Homo sapiens: one gene and its partner. The protein of the gene in region 2 interacts with the protein of the main gene of each other region in a pairwise test. Each region holds a gene or a part of one and is shown on either strand. Other genes may lie near its edges.

Region 1 (7,616 bases), on a different chromosome or scaffold from region 2:
AGGAAAATACAAATGTGACTTAAATGGGATTGAATGGGGTTCTTATTTTAAAAACTTGACTTTCTGACTTGATGATTTCTGTATGAGCTTTGTCAGGAGTTCAAGCTCAAAGCTTACGTTATTGTGTGTGTGTGTGTTTGTTTGTGTGTGTGTGTGTTAGGATCTCTTGGTTTCCCTGGACAGAAAGGGGAAAAAGGACAAGCTGGTGCAACTGGTCCCAAAGGATTACCAGTAAGTTTTGAGTATATTATAAAACAAAAAGAAGTAGAAGGAAGGCATTTTACACATTGATTTTCAATTATTCATATATATACACACATATACAATTTAATTTTTCCATTAAGTTGTACTTTGTTTGATTCCTTGACTCTTCCTGACTCACATGCCTCACTTGATTCAGCCCTTTGTACATTAAATGTTATTGGATGGGTTGAAGGGGTAAACTGGAGAGAAGAAAATGTTAGAAAAAAAGAAACTGATTTTCTTTTTCTCTTTCTTCTTTTTCCACTCTTTTTTCTTTTTTTCCTTACTCATTTCAGGGCATTCCAGGAGCTCCAGGTGCTCCAGGCTTTCCTGGATCTAAAGGTGAACCTGGTGATATCCTCACTTTTCCAGGAATGAAGGGTGACAAAGGAGAGTTGGGTTCCCCTGGAGCTCCAGGGCTTCCTGGTTTACCTGGCACTCCTGGACAGGATGGATTGCCAGGGCTTCCTGGCCCGAAAGGAGAGCCTGTGAGTTGGTTTGATATTTTTGGTTTTGTGATGTTAAATTTTCACTTAGAAATGTTTTCTAAGTTAATTCAAAGGATGGGACTGATGCTGAGATAAACACCCAATCAATGCTTAAAACAATGTGACCATACAGTAATGGCACATTGTTACTGACTACGTAGGGTTTCTGCACTACTCTTTTCTTTCACTTGTTTTGTAAACTTATTTTTCTTAACCCATTAATATTGAATACTATTTTCTATGAATAGGTGGGCAGGAGGTTAAGATGTTTATGAGACAGTATAAGGTTCCCCATCTCTTAACCCCCACATATCTTTCCTTGGGTTTACTTAAACCTCATGACTGGGCATGGTGGCTCACACCTGTAATCCCAGCACTTTGCGAGGCTGAGGTGGGCGGATCACCTGAGGTCAGGAGTTCGAGACCAGCCTGGCCAACATGGTGAAACCCTGTCTCTACTAAAAACACAAAAATTAGCCGGGCATGGTGGTGGGCGCCTGTAATCCCAGCTACTCGGGAGGCTGAGGCAGGAGAATCACTTGAACCCGGGAGGCGGAGGTTGCAGTGAGCCGAGATTGCACCACTGCACTCCACCCTGGGCAACAAGAGCAAAACTCCATCACAATAAATTAAATAAATAAATAAATAAATAAACCTCATAACCAGCAGTTTAACTTGTTTCTATATATATAGTAAGCTTAGAGAATAGTACAAGTAGATAGCCATGTTCAATGTGCCACAGAACTGAAAGATTTAACATAAATGAACAATCTTATTTTGTACATAACACACAGCCCAGGATATTTAGGTAGGAAGTGATATTTTATAATGTTATCTAGACTATAACCTTTCTGACTTACACTAAAATGTAAGCTGCATAAAGTCAGAGATTTTTGTGTATTTTTGTTTTCTGTTGTATCACCAGCACTTGACACATAGTAGGAGCCCAAAAATATTTGTTGGAGGAATGAGTAAGTGGAATGATCACACATACCATCTCATAATACCACTCACTTATATAGCTTTTAAGAAGAACTATTTATGGCTATATCCTTTCCCCAGTTGTATTCAGTACCAACCTACAGATAGTTGTTGTATCTATATGTTTCTGTATTAAACTTTTCCCTTTTTAGGGTGGAATTACTTTTAAGGGTGAAAGAGGTCCCCCTGGGAACCCAGGTTTACCAGGCCTCCCAGGGAATATAGGGCCTATGGGTCCCCCTGGTTTCGGCCCTCCAGGCCCAGTAGGTGAAAAAGGCATACAAGGTGTGGCAGGAAATCCAGGCCAGCCAGGAATACCAGGTAAGTTTACTGTGTTTTGTTTTAAACTTGGTGCTTAAAAACAGAAATTTATTATGTTTTGGCTACTCATGGCTTCCTTTCCCGAGAGGTGTGTTTCCCTGGCCGTTTATATTTGAACTCTTCAGAGCATCTTAGCAAGGGATCACAATGGTTTTTATAAGGGGGTTTCTTTTTAAATCTTTTCTAACTGTTTCATTGTTACTGTTAATTTTGCTCTTTTTAAGTACATGATACATAATGCAAAGTTTAATAAATAGTTATAACAGAAGCACACAGGTAGCTACCACACACATCAAAAAATAGAATGTTACCAGCATCCTAGAAACCCCTAACCTTTTCTCCCTGTCATTTCCTAATCACAATCCCCTTCCTCCTGTCTGCTGTCTTGACTTTTACATAGTTTTCTTCCATTACCCCTCTGTTTTATGACCTCTGTATGCATTTTTAAACAGAGTATTTTAATTTTGTTTCTTTTTGAACTTCATGTTAAAGGAATCATAGGGTAAGTGTTTTTTATATTAACTTTTCGTGTGGCTATAGTGTATTCATTTTTATTGCTATATAGTATTTCATTGTATGTATGTTTATGTGTGTGTGTGTGTGTGTGTTACAGTTGATTGATCCATTCTATGGTTAATGGTTAATTGGGTTATTTACAGTTCAGGTCTATTATGAATAATGCTTCTGTTTACAGTCATATAGATAGATAGCTAGGTAGATAGATAGATCCCTATATCTCCTTGTGTTCATGTGCTCACACTTCTCTAGGGCAAGAGTTGGCACACTACAGAACTACAGTCCATGGACCACATCCAGCCTACCACCTGTTATAAATAAAAGTTTTATGTGAACACTTCCACAACCATTCACTTTTGTCTGTGGTTGTTTTTGCACTACAACTGAAGAGTTGAGTAGTTGCTACAGAGACTGGATGGTCCACAAAGCCTAAAGTATTTACTCTGGTCCTTTACACAAAAGGCTTACCAATACCTGGGCTAGGGTATGTATTTAAGATTAGCATTTTCAAAGCATAGGATAAGTGCATCTTCCACTTGACTGGATAATTACAAACTCTATCCAGACCAATTGTACCAATTTTTACTACCACAAGCAGTGTTGAATATTTTATGTTGATTTACATCCTTGGAAACAATTTGTATTGTCGGACTTTTACACTTTTGCCAATCTGTTGAGTGTGATATTTTGCATTTCTCTGATTAAAGTTTAGCACCTTTTCATGTGTTTATTGGTCATTTGAATTTGCTTTTGTGAAATGCCTAATCAAGTACTTTGACCAATTTTATATTGGATTATTTCTTTTTTTATTGATTTAGAGGAGTTCTTTATATATTCTGTGCATTAGTTCTTAGTTACCTATGTATTTTGCGAAAAGAAATCTTTACCTACTGTGGCTTGCCATTTTTACTCTTTGTTTGGTGTCTTCAATGAGCAGAAAACAACTTTCACATCATCAAAATTATCAATCTTTTCTCTCATGGTTAGTGCTTTTTGTGTCATGTTTAGGAAATCTTTTTTTTCTTGAGCCAATTTCAAGTTCATGTTTCCATTAATAAGAAGTAGATATACTTGAACTTTGCACATGTAAAACCTAAATGTACCTATTAGCCAAAAAAATATTTTCCTTGTTTACTACAGTTTGATTTTTAATGCTCTTTTGGCCTACATTTTAAAAATACTTATATAGGTAACACCCTGTTTTAGGGGTTTCCAGAGAAACAGAACCAATAAAAAGGATGGACAGATGGGTAGATTAGATAGATAGATAGATAGATAGATAGATAGATAGATAGATAGATAGATGAGAGGTGATTTATTATGGGAATTGACTTACATGATTATGGAGGCTGAGAAATCCCACAGTAGGCCACCTGTAAGTTGAAGAACTAGGGAAGCCAGTAGCTTGGCTCAGTCCTAGTCTGAATGCCTGAGAACCTGAGTGGCTGCTTAGTACAAGTCCCAGAGTCTGAAAGCCAGAGAACCTGGAGTTGTGATGTCCAAGGGTAGGAGAGGATGGGTGTACCAGTTTCAAAAGAGAGAGAGCAGAGAATTCACCTTTTTTTCTGCCTTTTTGTTGTATCCGGTCCCTCAGCTGATTGGATGGTACCCACACACATTGGGTGAGGGTGGATCATCCTTATTCGTTTCACTGATTCAAATGTCAGTTTCTTTCGGAAACAGCCTCACAGACATATCTAGAAATAATGCTTTACCAGCGATCTCAGTATCTCTTAATCTAGTCATGTTGAAACCTAAAATTAACCATTATACATCTTGAATCATGGAAGTCCTTAAGGCTGTCATATCCTTTTTCTTTTTGAAATTCTATCCTTCTGTTTTATATATTTCTTGAATATATAGTGGAAGATTGTTTTTCTTGTGAATTTTTGTTAGTTTACATTTTCAAAAGATTGCTGATAATTTTCTTTTTTGTTTTTAATTAAAAAGAGACCTTTAGTTGAGTAAATACTTCTCATTTACCATTGATTTACTCTTGCTTTCAGGTCCTAAAGGGGATCCAGGTCAGACTATAACCCAGCCGGGGAAGCCTGGCTTGCCTGGTAACCCAGGCAGAGATGGTGATGTAGGTCTTCCAGGTATGTGAGGAATTTATTTCAAAGTAACTTCAACACCGATGGCTTTTTTTTTTTTTTTTTTGACAGAGTTTCGCTCTGTCACCCATGCTGGAGTACAGTGGCGTGATGTTGGCTTGCTGCAGCAACCTCCTACTTCTGGGTTCAAGCAGTTCTCCCTGCCTCAGCCTCCCAAGTAGCTGGGATTACAGGCGCCCACCACCACGCCCAGTTAATTTTTGTATTTTTAGTAGAGACGGAGTTTCTCCACGTTGGCCAGGCTGGTCTCGAACTCCTGACCTCAGGTGACCCATTGCCTCAGCCTCCCAAAGTGCTGGGATTACAAGAGTGAGCCACTGCACCTGGCCCTGATGGCTTCTTTCTTTGAACGTTTTCCTTTCAATAACTGCTGTTTCTCCATAGGTGACCCTGGACTTCCAGGGCAACCAGGCTTGCCAGGGATACCTGGTAGCAAAGGAGAACCAGGTATCCCTGGAATTGGGCTTCCTGGACCACCTGGTCCCAAAGGTATGTTGGAATGGGTAGCAGGCAGAGTAGGTTAGAAGTTTAGCATGATGTTATTCTCTCATAAAATTCATTCAACAAATAAAATATATTAATTGCACCTTTTTTCTCTGTGCTATAAAGAATGTAAATAAAAAATCACAGTGTATTTTCACTGTAAGTTCATTATCTTTATCTAAAACAGTCCAGACAAGAAAATATCTACATTTTAGATATGCAAAAGTGATATATAAGCTTAAAAATCACAGGAATTATTGTGTTTTGTGTTCACCATAGTATTTTCAGGGTTTAGAACAGTTCCTAACACATAGTGTGCACTTGATGTTTATTGAGTTAAAGGATTTTTTAAACAGAAAACAGACTTATTGCAGATGTGTAGCCAAGTAATGTTTTATGCTAAATAATATTTTCTTGATTTATTGAAATTTTTAGGGCTTATGCTTCAGTTCTGCTTTATTCCTCACAGAATTTATTCTCACAAATGGCAAGAGCACACAGTGGTCTGAGGACAGTTCTTAAATATATCTTTACTCATTTATACAAAATGCTTTCAAAAGTATCAGGTTTGATTTTATGTGTGTATGTATCTATAATATCTGCAGTTATTTTTAGATCATTTCCAAAATTATATGGTAGGCCCTTTGTCATACTACATCCAGATATAAGCAGAAGAAAAGTTCTTGGGCATTTTTGTGTGGGATTCATTCCTTACAATTTAGTTCTATCTTATTATATAATAGCCCTCATTTTCTTCAGAAAAGCATATGTTCCACATACATTAGCTCTATGTGAAAATAAAAGGAATGTAAGATGATTGAGAGGATTGTAAGGCTTAATCCTAAGTAGTAGAATGTCATTGTGCTTTTGACATCTTACTGTTGTCACTAAGCATGAGTAGAATGTGGGTTTGGGAATTTGAATATCTTTCTTAAAGTGCCTTTCCTTTGGTGGTTAAAAAATGACTTATCATTTTACAGGCTTTCCTGGAATTCCAGGACCTCCAGGAGCACCTGGGACACCTGGAAGAATTGGTCTAGAAGGCCCTCCTGGGCCACCCGGCTTTCCAGGACCAAAGGTCTGGGACATTTTTCTTTATTCCTTCTCATTTTCTTATCTTTCCCACCTTCCTTATTTCTAGCTCTCTATTTTGACTCAGATATCATCCCAAGCCCCAAGTCTTTACTATAAATATACAGATAACTTATTATATTTCCATTAAAAAAATATTTAACCCCAAATCATCTTTAATAGTCCAAGGTCACATTTGGAGCAAAAAAAAAAAAAAAAAAAACCTAATTTCTGTACCTACTTTTGAATGCCCAGTTCTTTGATTAGAGAATACAGGCATACCTTGGAGATATTGCAGGTTTAGTTCCAGACCACCACAATAAAGTGAATATCAAAATAAAGTGAATCACACAACTTTTTTTGTTTCCCACTACATATAAAGGTTATGTTTACACTATACTGTAGTCTTTAAAGTGTGCGATAGCATTAGGTCTAAAAAAAACCATATGCATACCTTAATTAAAAATACTTTATTGCTAAAAAATTTTAGCAATCATCTAAGCTTGCAGCAAGTTATAATCTTTATGCTGGGGGAGGGTTTTGACTCAATATTGATGGCTGCCCACTGATCAGGGTGATGGTTGCTGAAGGTTGGGTGGCTGTGGCCATTTTTTTAAATAAGACAACAATGAAGTTTGCCACATCAATTGACTCTTCCTTTCAGAAAAGATTTCTCTGCAGCATGTGGTGCTGTTTGATGGTATTTTACCCACAGTAGAACCTCTTTCAAAATTGGAGTGAGTCTTCTCAGACCCTGCTGCTGCTTTATCAACTAAGTTTATATAATATTCTAAGTCCTTTAGTGTCATTTCAACACTGTTCCCAGCATCTTCACCAGGGTAGATTCCATCTCTAGAAATCACTTTTGCTCATAAGAAGCAACTGCTCATCTGTTCTACTTTTATTATAAGATTGCAGCAATTCATTCACATCTTCATTCTCTACTTATAATTGTTGTTCTCTTGCTACTTCCACCATATTTGCAGTTACTTACTCCATTGAAGTCTTGAAACCCTCAAAGTCATCTGTGAGAGTTAGAATTAACTTCTTCCAAACTCCTGTTAATATTGATGTTTTGACCTCTTCTAATGAATCCTGAATTTTCTTCATGACATCTAGAATGAAACCCTTTTCAGAAGGTTTCCAATTTGTTTTGCCAGATCCATAAGAAGAATCACTATTTATGACAGCTATACATTACACAATGTGTTTCTTAAATAATAAGACTTGAAAATTAAAAGCACTCTTTGATCCATGGGCTGCAGAATGGGTATTGTGTTAGCAGCCATGAAAAGAACATTCATCTCTTTGTACATCACCATCAGAGCTCTTGGGTGACTAGGTGCATTGTAAATGAGCAGTAAAATTTTGAAAGGAATCTTTTCTTCTGAGGAGTAGG
Region 2 (8,231 bases):
CTTCATTCTGATCATTTTGAGCCACACTGAACTAAGGTAGAAGAAGCAGGGTTAAAATACAGCCTAAACATCCAGGACCCACTCTCGTCAGGACACACTCTCATCTAAACTTGGTCGCCCCACCCTCTTTCCAAGCATCCCAGCAGTGCCTCAGCCATCATTATTGCCTTTGCCTAAACTACACGTTCTGAGCTTCTCCATAGTTCCATGTTCTACCCACTCTTTAAAGTCAAGCTTAAATGGCTCCTTCTTTTCTAGAGAGCTCCCTGACTCAGTAGCTGGGGCTTCTCTCTCTTCCAGACATCCTGAACACTATGTCCTAATCCTTCATGGTGTTTACTACTTTCTATCTTGTAATAGATTGGATCATTTTGGTATGATAACCCTCTCTGCACACACACAATAGTGGATTGATAAATTTAGAGATCCTAAAACTAAAGAGATCATTCGCTTACCCAATTATTATTCGAAGTAAAGAAACTGATGTAAATCATTAAAATATACATTTAAAAGTACAATAAACCCTTTGACCCAACAGTCCCACTTCTAGGAATTGACTCTAAAGATTAATGACAACATTATAAACATGCAGTCATGCAAATTACAGCACTATTTATAACTATAAAATACTGAAAACTACCTAAACATAGGAGATGGAATAAAATATGGCGCACACACTATTGTGTACACATACAAAATTGTGTGTGGGTGTGTGTGTGTCTATATATATATATATATATATATATATATATATATATATATACACCACCAGGTGGAAAATAATAAGGAAAGATTCTGTGAACTAGTAGAGTAATTTTCAGGACATATTATTGAGAAAAAAAGGAGAACGCAAAAAAAAGAATACATAGTGTGCTGCCTTTCATATAATAGAAAAGGGAAAAATAAGAAAACACATAAGCGATTTATTTTGAGGAAAAAACACTAAGACACAGGAAAGACAAACCAGAAGGCATTAAAATTGGTTACCTATGAGTGGTAGGGGTGGGAGAGGGGGAGGGTTAGAAAGACTGGAGGGATTGACACTTTCTGAGTACACCTTTTGGAATAATTTTGACTTTTAGGTGGTAATGTCCTATATATTAAAAAAATAAATTATATTAGTGTTATGGGCTGAATGGAGTCCCCCCACCTTAGTCAAATTAGTATGTTGAAGTCCTAACCTAATATGACTGTGTTTGGAGACAGTATCTTCAGGGAGGTAATTAAGGTTAAATGAGGTCATAAGAGTGGGGGCTCTAATCTGAAAAACTGTTTTCCTTATAAAAAGAGGAAGGGACATCAGGGCTCTCTTCCTCTGTGCATGCACACTGAGTAAAGGCCATGTGAGGACGCACTGAGAAGGTGGCTGTCTGCAAGCCAGGAAGAGAGGCCTCACCAGAAACCAACCCTCAACAGTACCTTGACCATGGACGTTCAGCCTCCAGAGTCGTGAGAAAATAAATATGTGTTGTTTAAGCTACCCAATCTGTAGTATTTTGTTCTGGCATCTTGAACAGACTAAGATAATTAGCCAGAATGGAGAAAAAAAACTAAAACTAAATGCCAAAAAAAAAAAACCCCACAAATGGATGCAAATGAATTTCAAATGTATCATGCATTACATAATCACACTAAAGGTGGAAAAAAGAACTAATGGAAGTACGGTAATTTCTAGATACAGTATTTGGCTATATTCATTAAGTCTAAGGGAAAAAGAACTGAAAAGTCTTGAATATTTCTTGGTAGCTTTGTTTTTTATAATGGCATGGGTAAGTATTATAGAATTATACAAGTAAGTAAATTTTTTAATCTATTTGTAAAATAGGTGTTTCACCTATTTGTATAATAGGGGGAGACAAATTTCTTACTTTGAAAGAAGAATACATGTATGGAATGGGGCAAGCAGGGAAAAATCCCGTGGAGTTGGGCTGGAAGTGGAGGTCTCAGTACAAACTTGTGTGTGTGTATTAGCTCTGTCATCAAGATGGCAGGGAAACAAGGTGACCCCAATGGCAAAGAGCACATTGAGTCCCCATAGTTTTTTGTTTTTTTTGTTTTTTTTGTTTTTTTGAGACAGAGTCTTGCTCTGTAGCCCAGACTGGAGTGCAGTGGCATGATCTTGGCTCACTGCAAGCTCCTCCTCCTGGGTTCATGCCATTCTCCTGCCTCAGCCTCCTGAGTAGCTGGGACTACAGGCACCCACCGCCACGCCTGGCTCATTTTTTTGTATTTTTAGTAGAGACGGGATTTCACTGTGTTAGCCAGGATGGTCTCAATCTCCTGACCTCATGATCCGCCTGCCTCGGCCTCCCAAACTGCTGGGATTACAGGCGTGAACCACCGTGCCCGGCCCCATAGTTTGGTTTCTAAACACCATTCCCTACTAACAAGAACCTGGGCTCCTTGGGGAAATGAATTCAGGGCTGAGGCAGGGAAAGTACAAGATGAACGTAGGACATATTTTTGTATCGAAAAGTAAAACATTACTCAAAAAACAATGAAGGTATGTTAAAATGACACAGCAACAAGTTAATGGGCTTTGACTTGTCAAATCTAGGACAATTTGAGCATCAAAATAATTAAGGACGGGAGGCCAGGAGTTCAAGGCCAGCCTGGGCAACACAGGCAGACCCGGTCTCTATAAAAAGTTAAGCTGGGTGTGGTGGCATGCCTGTGTAGTCTCAGCTACTCAAGAAGCTGAGGCAAGAGGGTCACTTGAACCCAAGAGTTGGAGGCTACAGTGAGCCATGATCACACCTCTACACTCCAGCCTCAGTCACAGAAAGAGGCCCTGTCTCCAAAAAAAAATTAAACAAGTAAATAGAGTGATGAACTACAAAAATAGGACTCCATGATTCTACACTGATAATATCAGATAAATAAATGTTTTTTAAGTTTTTTGTGAACATAATCACATGTACATAAAATTATTATATACCTATTTGGTATAAATATTTATAAATATATACATATAAAGAGAGTAAGAAAGGAATGGCTATTGCTTTTTTGTTTTTTAGAGTATTTTTTTTGAGACAGAGTCTTACTTTGTCACCCAGGCTGGAGTGCAGTGGCTTACTGCAACCTCCGCCTCCTAGGTTCAAGGGATTCTATTGCCTCAGCCTCCTGAGTAGCTGGGATTACGGTGTGCACCACCATGCCCAGCTAATTTTTTTGTACTTTTAGCAGAGACAGGGTTTTGCCATGTTGGCCAGGCTGGTCTCAAACTCCTGGTCTCAAGTGATCCGCCTGCCTTGGAGGAATGGCTATTCCTTACAGCAAAGTGCCAACTGATGATTTGGATGAATTGGTGAACTAGAAAAACCAGTATTTTGTAAACATTATAGTAAAGATTGGGTCAGTCAAGAATCATCAATGGATAACAAATCTAGGCAGAAAGGAAATTTAAGGAGGAGTAGGAGATTTATATGACTTTACAACATCTCCCACATGTTATATATTAGTTACAAGGTGAAGAAGTAATTACTACACAAGAGACCCAGACAACACCTTGACCCAGTGATCAAAATGGACATCACCACTGAGAGGCGACGGGCATTAAATACCTCCAGACATGAAACTCAGAAGGCTACGGTATCATGAAGAAACATCAGACAAACCAAATTTAGGAATACCCTATAGATAATTGTCACAAATGTCAATGTCATGAAAGATAAAGGCTGAGAACTTTTCCAGATTAAAAGAGGCTAGAGAGGTGTGATGCATAAATGTCTTACACAGTCATGGACTGGGCTTTGCATTAGAGAAAAAAAGACTTCCATGGAAGACATTATCGGAATAATTGACACAATCAGAGTAGGCACGGCAAATTAGACTAAAGTATTATATCCATGTTAAATTTCCTGAATTTGATAGCTCCATTGACATTACATAAAAAAAAATCCTGTTCTTAGGGAAAATGCTCTAAAGTATCAAGGGGTAAGGGAACGATACAATCAATCTACTGTCAACTGGCTCAAAACATTAGTAATAATAATAATAATGTATATTTGTTAGAAAGAGAGAGAATGGGCTGGGTGCGGTGGCTCATGCCTACAATCCCAGCACTTTGGGAGGCTGAGGCGGATGGATCACTTGAGCTCAGGAGTTCGAGACCAGCCTGGCCAACATGGTGAAATCCTGTCTCTACTAAAAACATAAAAATTAGCTGGGCATGGTGGTGCGTGCTTGTAATCCCAGCTACTTGGGAGGCTGACACAGGAGAATCATTTGAACCTAGGAGGCAGAGGTTGCAGTGAGCCGAGATCGCCCCACTGTACTCCAGCCTGGGTGACAGAGCAAGACTCCGTCTCAAAAAAGTAGATATTTATGGGTGCCTCACTTTCCTGGAATCTCAAGCTGGATTTACTTGCTGAGTAATTCACCACTGCTGCACAGTTAATAATAAACAGTGGCTGAACCACCTGGATGAGTGTCCCTACGCCTGGGCCAGGGCTGGAGGGGTGCTGGGCCCAAGCATATGCCAGGCCTGGGAGCCTGTGCAGAGGGTATTTGGTGCTCCTTGCCCTGAGGAGTCCTGGATGGGTGGTGGTTATGACTTCCCTCTCCAGGACCCAGACATCCTACTCCTAAAGCCAGTCTGTAAAGAGCAGAGCATCTCAGGAGACTGCGGGAGGCTCCTAGTTGCTCTGGGGGAATTGGCACTCTAAAAGTATTGATTATGTCATAGTTTCAAATTCTTTCAGATGCTTCTCTGTTCACCCTCGATTTCATTATCTGTAGAGTGAGGCTAAAAATTGTACTTATTTCATGGAATGTGTAAGATGCAGCATAGATGGCGCACTAAGCTGAGCTCCTGGTGCGTGAAAAGCCCTGAAGAATGATGAGGTGTTAGTGTCATGACTTCCGGAATACCTTGACAAGCTGTGGAATGCAAAGTCAAGGCCTTTAGATCAAACATTTTTACACTTGATGCACTTTCTTACTTTTTTTCCTTCGTGGTGGGATATGGATTTTCCAGAGCTGTTTTTGGCTTAGAGTCAAACAAGTACCAACTCTGATATTTATTAACTGTGACAGAATGACAGTTAGGGATATTCACACAGGATGTCTTTTATTGCAGAAGATGTTGTCTAGGTGGCCCCCACAGCCTTCATCTCTGAGATGATGTTACAGCTCCAAATACTCAGTCCCCAATGTCATTATCTCCTAGCTATAATTACATGTGTGTGTGCACATATATATATATATATGGAGATCTCCAGATATACATGAATATATATATACATACCCCATATATGTGTCGAATATATAGATAGATAGATAGATAGATTCTCTATGGCTTCTTTGATTATGCACAAGGTTCTTCCACCATCTTTGTCCAACATCAAGCCAAATACGTCACTATCCCCCACACTACCTGAAACGTAACCCTATCCTGGAATCCAAACACAGTTCTCACTTTCGCTGACCCTATTCCTCTTCACTTTTCTTCTTATGGTTTGGCAGGCATGCCTGGGTTCCTGCATTCAGCCATCCTGTATAACTGTTAGAAATGGAGCTTTGTGTCTGCTTACCTCAGGAGAGACTTTGGAAGGCTGTAGGATGCAAAGCTGGAGTGCTAAGAAACAAAGAAGGTGAGACAGTTCAGCGTGTCTACTGATTAGCTGGGGGCTCCAATAACAGCTGTAGTGCTACCACCCTATTATGCATAAATTTAACTCCCTGAGTTTCTTCTTTCTTTTCTACAACGGGGCAGTCCTTGATCCATCAAAACATGTCCAAACCGCCCATTCTTAGTGAAGACTGACACTACAACATAATGCATTCCCAACCTGACCTGGGCTGTCACCTGCTGGAGGCTCTGATGGTGACTTACCTCCATCCAGTAGTGCCAGGAAGGCCAGGATGAGGAAGGGTGCAGACTTCCCAACAAACTCGTACATTACACTTCCAAAGGGAGCTCCCACTGGAGAGGCATAGGAGACACAGATTCCAGAGGTGAGGGTGAGTCCTTTGCAGTGAGAATTATCCATATTTACCCCGTGAGCATTTGCAGAAGGCCTGCTAGGGGCTAAGCTCCACCTGAGGCTCTGGGAATTCAGAGATGGAGACATGATCCCTGTCCCCATCAAGCCCACTTTCTAGTGGAGGAAGTGTGTGTGTGTGTGTGTGTGTGCGCGCGCGTGTGTGTATGTATGTGTGTGTGTGTGTAGGGAGGGACACAGATAATTAAAGCATGGTGAAAGTTTGACAGTAAAATGTTGCATGCAATGAAAGCACAGTCAATGTCTCAGGAATTTCAGGCAGCCACGAGGGCTTTGCCAAGTGTAGAGTATCTGGAGGGGAAGAAGCTTGTGTGAAGAACACAGAGGTGTCAGAAAAGAGTGTGTAGTTGGAGAAGAAAAAGAAGAAAGCGGGTGTTAGCAGAGTATGAATATTTGCGAGGAGAAAAGTAGAGCCTTGCATATGCAGGAACCTTGTATATGCAGATGAGTCATGTACTTGGCCTTGCGGCCTATGGAGAAACATCAGGTGAGAAACATCACCTGCTCTGGGCTCAGGAAGATTGTTCAGGCAGCATCGTGGTGGAAGGAGGGAGTACACAAGAGGGAGGATGCTGCCAGATTCTAACCCAGAAGTGACAAGGAGCCAGGAGTGGCTGTTGAGGATCTAACAAGCTTGTTCATTTGGGAGCTTATTCATTTGGGACATGATAAAGGATTTCAAGATGCACAGGGTTTAGCTTGGGCATTTGGGTTGATGGATACTAGCAAATAACAGGGATTCTGTTTCCTCTGCTTCCCATGGGGCTAGAGGGTGGGGCATAGGCCGGGGAAGAAATTTCAGGTGTTTTGTTTTCGATGAGCTTGTAAGCTCCTAGAGGGCAGGAACTATGCCTGGGGCTTCCCACCCTACAGTACTGGCACTGTGCTTGGCATGTAATAAGTGAAAGCATGTAGCTTGTCAATTAAGTTGTATGAGGGAGGAGCCTCAAAGAAAGGGTAGTTTTATCGTTTGGGGCTTGGGTTTCCAAGCCCAGAAAATCGGAGTCTGTATCCTGGCTGTGGCGTTTCCTAGCTGTGTGATGTTGGATGGTGTTTTCGCCATTCTTATTTTCATCTCTATAATGGGGAAAATCATTCCTCCTTTCATTCCTGGTGGTGAGGAATAAAAGAGATTATGCGTGTAACAGATTTAGCAGAGCATCTGGCAGCAGCCATGCTCTGGTGCTGTGTGCATGGGAACCGAGGCGAAGCAGTGGCCTCTAAATCGGGGAGGCTCACTTCCTCCAACAGGCTGGGCTTCCGGACCTTTCTCCGACGTTTATGTGTTTCCCAGCTTCTTAAGGAGAAGGAAATTTAACCTTTTCTCAGTGATATTTCTAAAGGAGTTGAAATAGGATGAGGCCAACAAGGGAAGGAAAATACTCGTCTTCTACACCTCGGGAACACCTGCTTCCTAGAGTCCCACCCTCCCGAACCCAGAGCTCCAGCTGGTGCCACTTACCCAGCAACCCCAAGGCCAGGCCCCCCAGAGCAGTTCCCATGGCTCGTCCTCTCTCATGGTCATCAGTGTAGACACTGGCCAGCATTCCAAGACCTGCGCAGAGAGTTACAGATGCAGCTGGCCCCCTGGGGGGCTTCTATCCGCCTCTCAGAGCCCTTGGTCCCACCCTGTTATCTCTTCAGTGACAATCTTAGCTAGAGTTTCAGTTTGAGGGGTTTTACAAAACTTAACCCGTAGTATTTTTCAAGTACTACCCTCCCTAGTCCCCCAAGCCCCCACATTGTCCACTCCTGTTCAGAATATTGTTGATAGTGCAAGCCCTCTGGAAGGATAACACAGAAAATCCATTGTCTGATTATACCATGTTTCATAACATTTTATCATTTCCTAGCACATTTCCCAAAATGAGGGGTTACAGAGCAGATCAGGGAAAGGAAAATCTAGGCACACAGAGACCATTCTATTTAACAGGGGTGCCCAGGGAAGAGCAGGAAAGCACTGCAGACCTGGAAGAAAGTGTGGGCTAGTGCTGTACGGCAGCTGGACCCTCTGGCCTTCATAGCTATGGGTAAAATGGCATAAAATGCCAACTTCATAAGATTGCATTAGATATTATATTCACCAGTACTTTGAAAACTGTGCTGGTGTTACCAGTAGTACTAACATGATTATTCCTATAAAGTACTAAGAGGGGGACAGAAAAAGGACCATAGAGTGGCACTAAATGAAAGCCTGCCCTTCTTCATAGCTTCACTGGAGGCTTG

The links. Proteins that work in one complex are often made in the same cells at the same time.
Region 1: the proteins of SLC18A1 (region 2) and COL4A5 interact in binary tests that used the Homo sapiens proteins (3 or more experiments, as listed by UniProt).

The regions. Positions count from the first base shown.
Region 1 is NC_000023.11:108,596,838-108,604,453, forward strand, and holds part of COL4A5 (collagen alpha-5(IV) chain isoform 2 precursor), read left to right. Parts: intron 1-160; coding exon 161-231; intron 232-539; coding exon 540-731; intron 732-1,864; coding exon 1,865-2,033; intron 2,034-4,555; coding exon 4,556-4,648; intron 4,649-5,047; coding exon 5,048-5,152; intron 5,153-6,126; coding exon 6,127-6,224; intron 6,225-7,616. UniProt on the Homo sapiens protein: Type IV collagen is the major structural component of glomerular basement membranes (GBM), forming a 'chicken-wire' meshwork together with laminins, proteoglycans and entactin/nidogen.
Region 2 is NC_000008.11:20,165,569-20,173,799, forward strand, and holds part of SLC18A1 (chromaffin granule amine transporter), read right to left. Parts: intron 7,561-8,231; coding exon 7,468-7,560; intron 5,927-7,467; coding exon 5,837-5,926; intron 5,579-5,836; coding exon 5,535-5,578; intron 1-5,534.